Linked DNA regions of Homo sapiens. The protein of the gene in region 1 purifies or fractionates together with the protein of each later gene. This does not show direct contact. Each region holds a gene or a part of one and is shown in the gene's direction. Other genes may lie near its edges.

Region 1 (3,500 bases):
GGGTAATGTAGGGAAGGAGGAAATGATTAGTATCTGCAGTACAGAGGACTTTTTATTCCCCCGGGTGTCTATTAAAATAGATCTGGATAATGGTGATGAATCATATTTAATTCAATCACCTTTTTTTTTTTTAATAAACTAAACACAGTGCTGACAATACTTGGGAACCTGAAGAAAATTTAGATTGTCCAGAATTGATTGAAGCGTTTCTTAACTCTCAGAAAGCTGGCAAAGAAAAAGATGGTACAAAAAGAAAATCTTTATCTGACAGTGAATCTGATGACAGCAAATCAAAGAAGAAAAGAGATGCTGTAAGTATAAAATATTGCCCACCAGCTTGTCCTTTTGTAAAAGGTTGATGGCTTGATTTCTTTTTTGTTTGTTTGTTTTTTTGAGATGGAGTCTTGCTCTTGTCGCCCAGGCTGGAGTGCAATGGCATGATCTTGGTCACTGCAACTGCCGCCTCCTGGGTTCAAGCGATTCTCCTGCCTGAGCCTCCCAAGTAGCTGGGATTATAGGTGCCCACCACCACGCCCAGCTAATTTTGGTACTTTTAGTAGAGATGGGGTTTTGCCATGTTGGCCAGGCTGGTCTTGAACTCCTGACCTCATGATCCTCCCGCCTCGGCCTCCCAAAGTGTTGGGATTGTAGGCATGAGCCACCACGCCTGGCCTTTTTTTTTTTTTTTTTTTTTTTTTTTTTTTTTTCCTGGGAGACAGAGTCTCCCTCTGTCACCCAGGCTGGAGTGTAGTGGTGCAGTTTCGGCTCACTGCAACCTCCGCCTCCAGAGTAGCTGGGATTACAAGCGTGTACCACCACACCCAGCTGGTTTTTGTATATTTAGTAGAGACGGGGTTTCACCATGTTGGCCAGACTGATCTCAAACTCCTGACATCAGGTGATCCACCCGCCTCGGCCTCCCAGAGTGCTGGGATTACAGGCGTGAACCACCACACCAAGCCCACCTTTGACGACTTGCTTTTTTAAAATTCAGATACTTTTATAAAAGGCCTCTTAATCGTATTTTAAATATTTTAATACTTAGGACAATAAGGATGGGCGTGGTTTAGCCTACTTTGTGTAAATGTGCAGTAAGTGCTCATGCCACTTAGGTTGTGCTAGTGCAATTTTTCTTAGTTTCATGGATTTGATCCCTGATCAGACCAATTACCTGTGATCCAAGGCTAGCAATCTTAAATACAAACAATACTAAGATTGGATTATCGAAAGCCTTTGCACTACAGTAAGAACAACGCAAATAGAACTTTCTGATTATAGTCCATCAATGGCATTGACCACCGAAAAGTACTTGCATGTCATCTTTGTATTGCCAAACAATACCTTGATTTTGAAGTCTGTAATCTTTGATAATAGTTAAACACTTTTCTTGGCATGAATTGAGACATTCAGTTCATTCACTATACATGTGTTTTGGTCCAGTCTTTGCTTTACTTATGTCTCTGTGGCGTCAGGCAAATCAGGTAACTTCTTACTTACACCCTTGATTGTAAAACAGATTATACTTGTCTTGCCTACTGACCTAGTGTGGCAATTTGGGGAAACATCTTGGTGCTGAATTAGGTTCTAGGCTCAGGCACTAAACATGATTTAAAACTTGATCATTTGAACTAGAAGCCAAGTACAACCTTCAAGACAACTCTGTATAAGGTCATAGGTATAATCACTATTTTACAGATGAGGAAACGAGATTGACTACAAATTTGGTTTTGAAAATAAATCACATGCTCAACAGAAGCAGTTTTGGCCAGGCACGGTGGCTCGCACCTATAATCCCAGCACCTTGGGAAACCAAAGCAGGAACATCGCTTGAGCCCAGGAGTTGGAGGCCAGTTTGGGCAACATAGTGAGACCCCATCTCTACAAAGAAAAAAAAAAGAATCAGCAAGACGTGGTGGACACCTCCTGTAGTCTCAGCTACTTGGGAGGCTGAGGCAGAAGGATTGCTTGAGCCTGGGAGTTCAAGGTGCAGTGAGCTGTGATCATGCCAGTGCACTTTGGCCTAGGCAACGGAGCAAGACCTTGTCTCAAAAAATTATTAAATAATAAATCAGGCACAACTTTAACAACACTTATTGAGTCCTTAGCATGTGCTATACTGTGTGCCAAATTATTTGCTTTTAATGTGCTGTGAAATATCTGTGCAGTAGATACTAAAATTCTGTTTTATTAACCTAAACCACAAAGAGGTTAATTAACTTGCCCAAAGCCACACAGCTCGTAAGTGGGGTAGGTCCATCATTCTCACCCAGGCAGTGTGACTCCAGAGCTTGTGACATTGATGTAAAACTCTGACAGGAATAAAGGATTTATTGATATCATTGGTTCTCAAACTTTTTTTGGTCTCAGGGCCTCTTTATACTCTAAAAAAATTATTGAGGATCCCCAGAGAGCTTTTGTTTATATGGGTTATAATTATCAATACTAACAGTAGAAATTAAAACAAATTTCTAAAATGACTTTTCTAAAAAAGCTGAGAAGAGTAGCATTTTACATTTTTACAGATATTCAACATGTGTCTTAAGGCAATTTTACTTAAACACATTTGATTGCTGTGGCGGATCATTTTGGTGGAGGTATATGAAGACAATCCAAAGTCACAAATAGATGAAAAAAGGGGGCCTTACACAACCCCCTCCCAAAAAGGACTCTGGAATCCCCAGTGAATCCGTAGACCACATTTTGAGAGCCACTGGTTTATATTAAGTACTTTCTAGCGCAGGGGGTCCAATCTTTTGGCAGCCCTGGGCCACATTAGGAGAATTGTCGAGGGCTACACATAAAATAGACTTAATACCAACCATAGCTGATGAGCTAAAAAAAAAAAAAAAAAAAATCGCAAGAAAGTTTCAATGTTTTAAGAAAGTTTACAAATTTGTGTTGGGCCTCCAAAGCCATCCTGGGCCACAGGTTACACAAGTTTGTTCTAACATTTACTATCATTTAGAATGATTACAGATAGTTGGTATGAGTTTTAACATTTTTAATATTTCTTACCGTTTGTGTTTTGTTTATGCTTTTAAAATGTGTCAGTAATTCAGACTAATTCCTGGAAGTCATTTGAAATATATTAACTTTCAAGACTTTATTATTACCAGAAATAAAGAGGTTAGTTTTTCTGTATGCCCACACAACTCTGACTTTGGTGTCATTGAACGCAGTAATTTTCTTGACTTTTTATTCTGAATGTTTTCAGAAATTTTAAGTATTCTACGTTGAGTATCAAACTCAGGTTTTTCTGCTTGTAAAGTTAATGGAAATCAGATGTTTTTAATTACCAAATATGGGTTCTTGCTCTAGTCATTTCCATCTCACTATTGGAATGTTTTTATTTAAAATACGCCATGAAAACAATTTAATACTCTGAGTTTGCTGTATGAAAAAATGTCTTCTAAACAGGCTGACAAACCAAGAGGATTTGCCAGAGGTCTTGATCCTGAAAGAATAATTGGTGCCACAGACAGCAGTGGAGAATTGATGTT
Region 2 (3,500 bases), on another chromosome or scaffold:
CCATATAATTCTTCATTGTGGTGTGCTGTGCATTGCATTGTGGGACATTTAGCAGAATCCCTGGCCTCTACCCACTGGATGTGAATAGCATCCCTTTGAGCCCTCCCTGCATCATGACAACCAAAAACATCTCTAGACTGTGTCAAATGGCCCCCGAGGACAGAGGGGTCAGAATTGCCTCCACCTTGTACATAATTGGCTCTACATATGTATTTGCTAACTTGATTATTTGCAGAATTTAACAGTTTACCCTTTGACACTTTTATTTGCAGCCATGGATTGCAAAGATAGACCAGCTTTTCCAGTTAAGAAGTTAATACAAGGTAATTATTTGGAAATGGGTTAAAGAGTTGTTCGTAGTTTATAGTCTTCCTTGTCTCTTGTTGGAGACCTCAGTGGAAGCCTGGAGCTAGAGGGGAGAGAAACAGTCCTTCTTCAGACCAGGAAGCTGGGAAAATGCTTTTCACACAGTAATGTCTCGTGGGGTTCCCACAAGTAAACCCCGAGGCCTCCACTTATGCACGATTGGTGTTTTGTAACTTGCAGCTGGGAGCTCTCCTGTATGTTGTAGGGAGCGTAGCAGCATCCCTGGCCTCTTCCCACCGGATGCCAGTAAGTGCATCCTCCAAGTCGTAACAACCAAAAATATCTCTATACGTGGCTGATGTCCCCTGGGAGGTAGAACTGCCCCCTCAGAGAACCACTGTTGTCCTGGAAGATAAATGCTCCCAAATCCTTCTGCATAAAACGGGGAGTGTGTTCACCCTTGGGCCAGATGAGCGGTTGGATTGTAATTTTTTTTTTTTTTTTTTTGAGACGGAGTCTCATTCTGTTGCCCAGGCTGGAGTGCAGTGGTGCGATCTCTGCTCACTGCAACCTCCGCCTCCTGGGTTCAAGCAATTCTCCTCCTTCAGCCTCCCAAGTAGCTGGGATTACAGGCGCGTGCCACCACACCCAGCTAATTTTTCTATTTTTAGTAGAGATGGGGTTTTACCATGTTGGCCGGGATGGTCTCGATCTCCTGACCTTGTGATCCCCCTGCCTCAGCCTTTCAAAGTGCTGGGATTACAGGTGTGAGCCACCGCACCCGGCCCAGATTGTATTTTTAGAAACTACAGTTTTGGGTTTTTCAAACTTGGGCTGGGTGCAGTGTTGCATACCTGTAAAACCAGCTATTTGAGAGGCTGGGGTGGGAGGAGTGCTTGAGTCCAGGAGTTCAAGGCTGCGGTGAATTATAATGACACCACTGCTCTTCAGCCTGGATGACAGAGGAAGACTCTGTCTCTTGAAAAAAAGGGGGACGCCAGATGCTAGGCTCACACCTGTAATCCTAGCACTTTGGGAAGCTAAGGTGGGCGGATTGTCTGAGCTCAGGAGTTTGAAACCAGCCTGGCCAACATGGTGAAACCCCGTCTCTACTAAAATACAAAATAGCTGGGCATGGTAGGGGGCACCTGTAGTCCCAGCTACTCAGGAGGCCGAGGCAAGAGAATTGTTTGAACCCGGAAGGAAGAGGTTGCAGTGAGCCAAGGGTGCGCCACTGCACTCCAGCCTGGTGACAGAGCAAGACTCTGTCTCAAAACAAACAACTCCCCCCACACCCCCCCCAAAAAAAAACAGGTTTTTATTTGGTCTATTACATGATGAAATAGTTAATAAAAGATGCAATGGCATTGAAGTAAGTGAACATAGGTTCTTTGGGAAATTCACTCTCCAAAGTGTTTCTGTGTTCCTCCTAACCAGCCCGAAGCCTGGCAGACTCTGGGAGAACAGTTTGATTGATGAGAAAAGCCTAACAGAGCCTAGGGTGCTGAGGCCAGGAGAAAAAAAAAAAACCCTGTCCACAAATGTGTCTATATTTTCTACTTGAGAACCAGATGCAGTTATTATCAAATGAGATTTTCACCCATTAAAAATAAATTTGGAATATGAACTGCATCTGAAATAAACAAATGTCTCTTGAAATTCTGGCGATGGCTCTGCTAAAAGGCTTGTCAGGATTTTGTTTTTTAAGTTAGGATGTTGAAGCGGGGCATGGTGACTCACATCTGTAGTCCCAGCACCTTGGGAGGTGGAGGCGGGCAGATCACCTGAGGTCAGGAGTTTGAGACCAGCCTGGCCAACATGGCGAAACCCTGTCTCTACTAAAAATACAAAAATTAGCTGGGTGTAGTAGTGCATGCCTGTAATCCCAGCTACTTGAGAAGCTGAGGCAGGAGAATAGCTTGAACCCAGGAGGTGGAGGTTGCAGTGAGCTGAGGTGGCGCCATTGCACTCCAACATGGGTGACGAGCAAGACTGTCTCCAAAAGAAAAAAAAATAAGTAAAATTAGGATGTTAGAAAAGGATAGAATGAAAAGATAGCACCCCCCACCCCCTCTTTTTTTTTGAGACGAGGTCCCTTTTGCCCAGGCTGCAGAGTAGTTGCACCACCACAGCTCACTGCAGCCTCTACCTCCTGGGCTCAAGCGATCCTCCTGCCTCAGCCTCCCGAAGTGCTGGGATTATAGATGTAAGTCAGTGTACCTGGCTTCAGATAGCCCCTGCCCCGTCTTTTTTTTTTTTTTTTCTTTTGAGAGTTTCGCTCAGGTCGCCCAGGCTGGAGTGCAGTGGCGTGATCTCAGCTCACTGCAGGCTCCGCCCCCCGGGTTCACACCATTCTCCTGCCTCAGTCTCCCGAGTAGCTGGGAATGCAGGCGCCCGCCACCTCACCCGGCTAATTTTTTGTACTTTTAGTAGAGACGGGGTTTCACCGTGTTAGCCAGGATGGTCTCGATCTCCTGACCTTGTGATCCGCCTGCCTTGGCCTCCCGCACCCGGCCTTTTTTTTTTTTTTTTTTTTTTTTTTTTTTGAGAGGGAGTCTGTCTCTGTCGCCCAGGCTACAGTGCAGTGTTGGGATCTCAGCTCACTTCAACCTCTGCCTCCCAGGTTCAAGCGATTCTCCTACCTCAGCCTCCTCAGTAACTGGTATTACAGGCGTGTGCCACCATGGCCTGGCTAATTTTTGTAGTTTTAGAAAAGACGGGGTTTCACCATTTTGGTCTGGCTGGTCTCAAACTCCTGACCTTGTGATCTGCTTGCCTCGGCCTCCCCAAAGTGCTGGGATTACAGGCATGAGCCACCACACCCGGCCCAGATAGTCCCTTTTTAAACTTTAAAATTATCTCCCACCCCCATGTCCCAACAAATCAGTAATTTTCAAGCTCATGAGTGGTTGTAACTTTAAACGTTCACTAGAGATGGCTTTCTGTCTTTGTTTCAGCCCGTCTGCCGTTTAAGCGCCTGAATCTTGTCCCAAAGGGGAAAGCCGATGACATGTCAGACGATCAGGGTACTTCTGTGCAAAGTAAAAGCCCCGATTTAGAGGCCTCTTTGGACACCTTGGAAAACAACTGTCATGTGGGTTCTGACATAGACTTTAGACCGAAACTTGTCAACGGGAAGGGTCCCTTAGATAACTTTTTAAGAAATAGAATCGAAACCAGTATTGGCCAGAGCA

What was found.
Region 2: the proteins of CBX3 (region 1) and CHAF1A purify together in Homo sapiens (affinity purification with mass spectrometry; 5 studies listed by BioGRID and IntAct, with this or other methods). This does not show direct contact.

What each region holds. Positions count from the first base shown.
Region 1 is NC_000007.14:26,208,245-26,211,744, forward strand, and holds part of CBX3 (chromobox protein homolog 3), read left to right. Parts: intron 1-148; coding exon 149-311; intron 312-3,417; coding exon 3,418-3,500.
Region 2 is NC_000019.10:4,405,640-4,409,139, forward strand, and holds part of CHAF1A (chromatin assembly factor 1 subunit A), read left to right. Parts: intron 1-272; coding exon 273-323; intron 324-3,263; coding exon 3,264-3,500. UniProt on the Homo sapiens protein: Acts as a component of the histone chaperone complex chromatin assembly factor 1 (CAF-1), which assembles histone octamers onto DNA during replication and repair.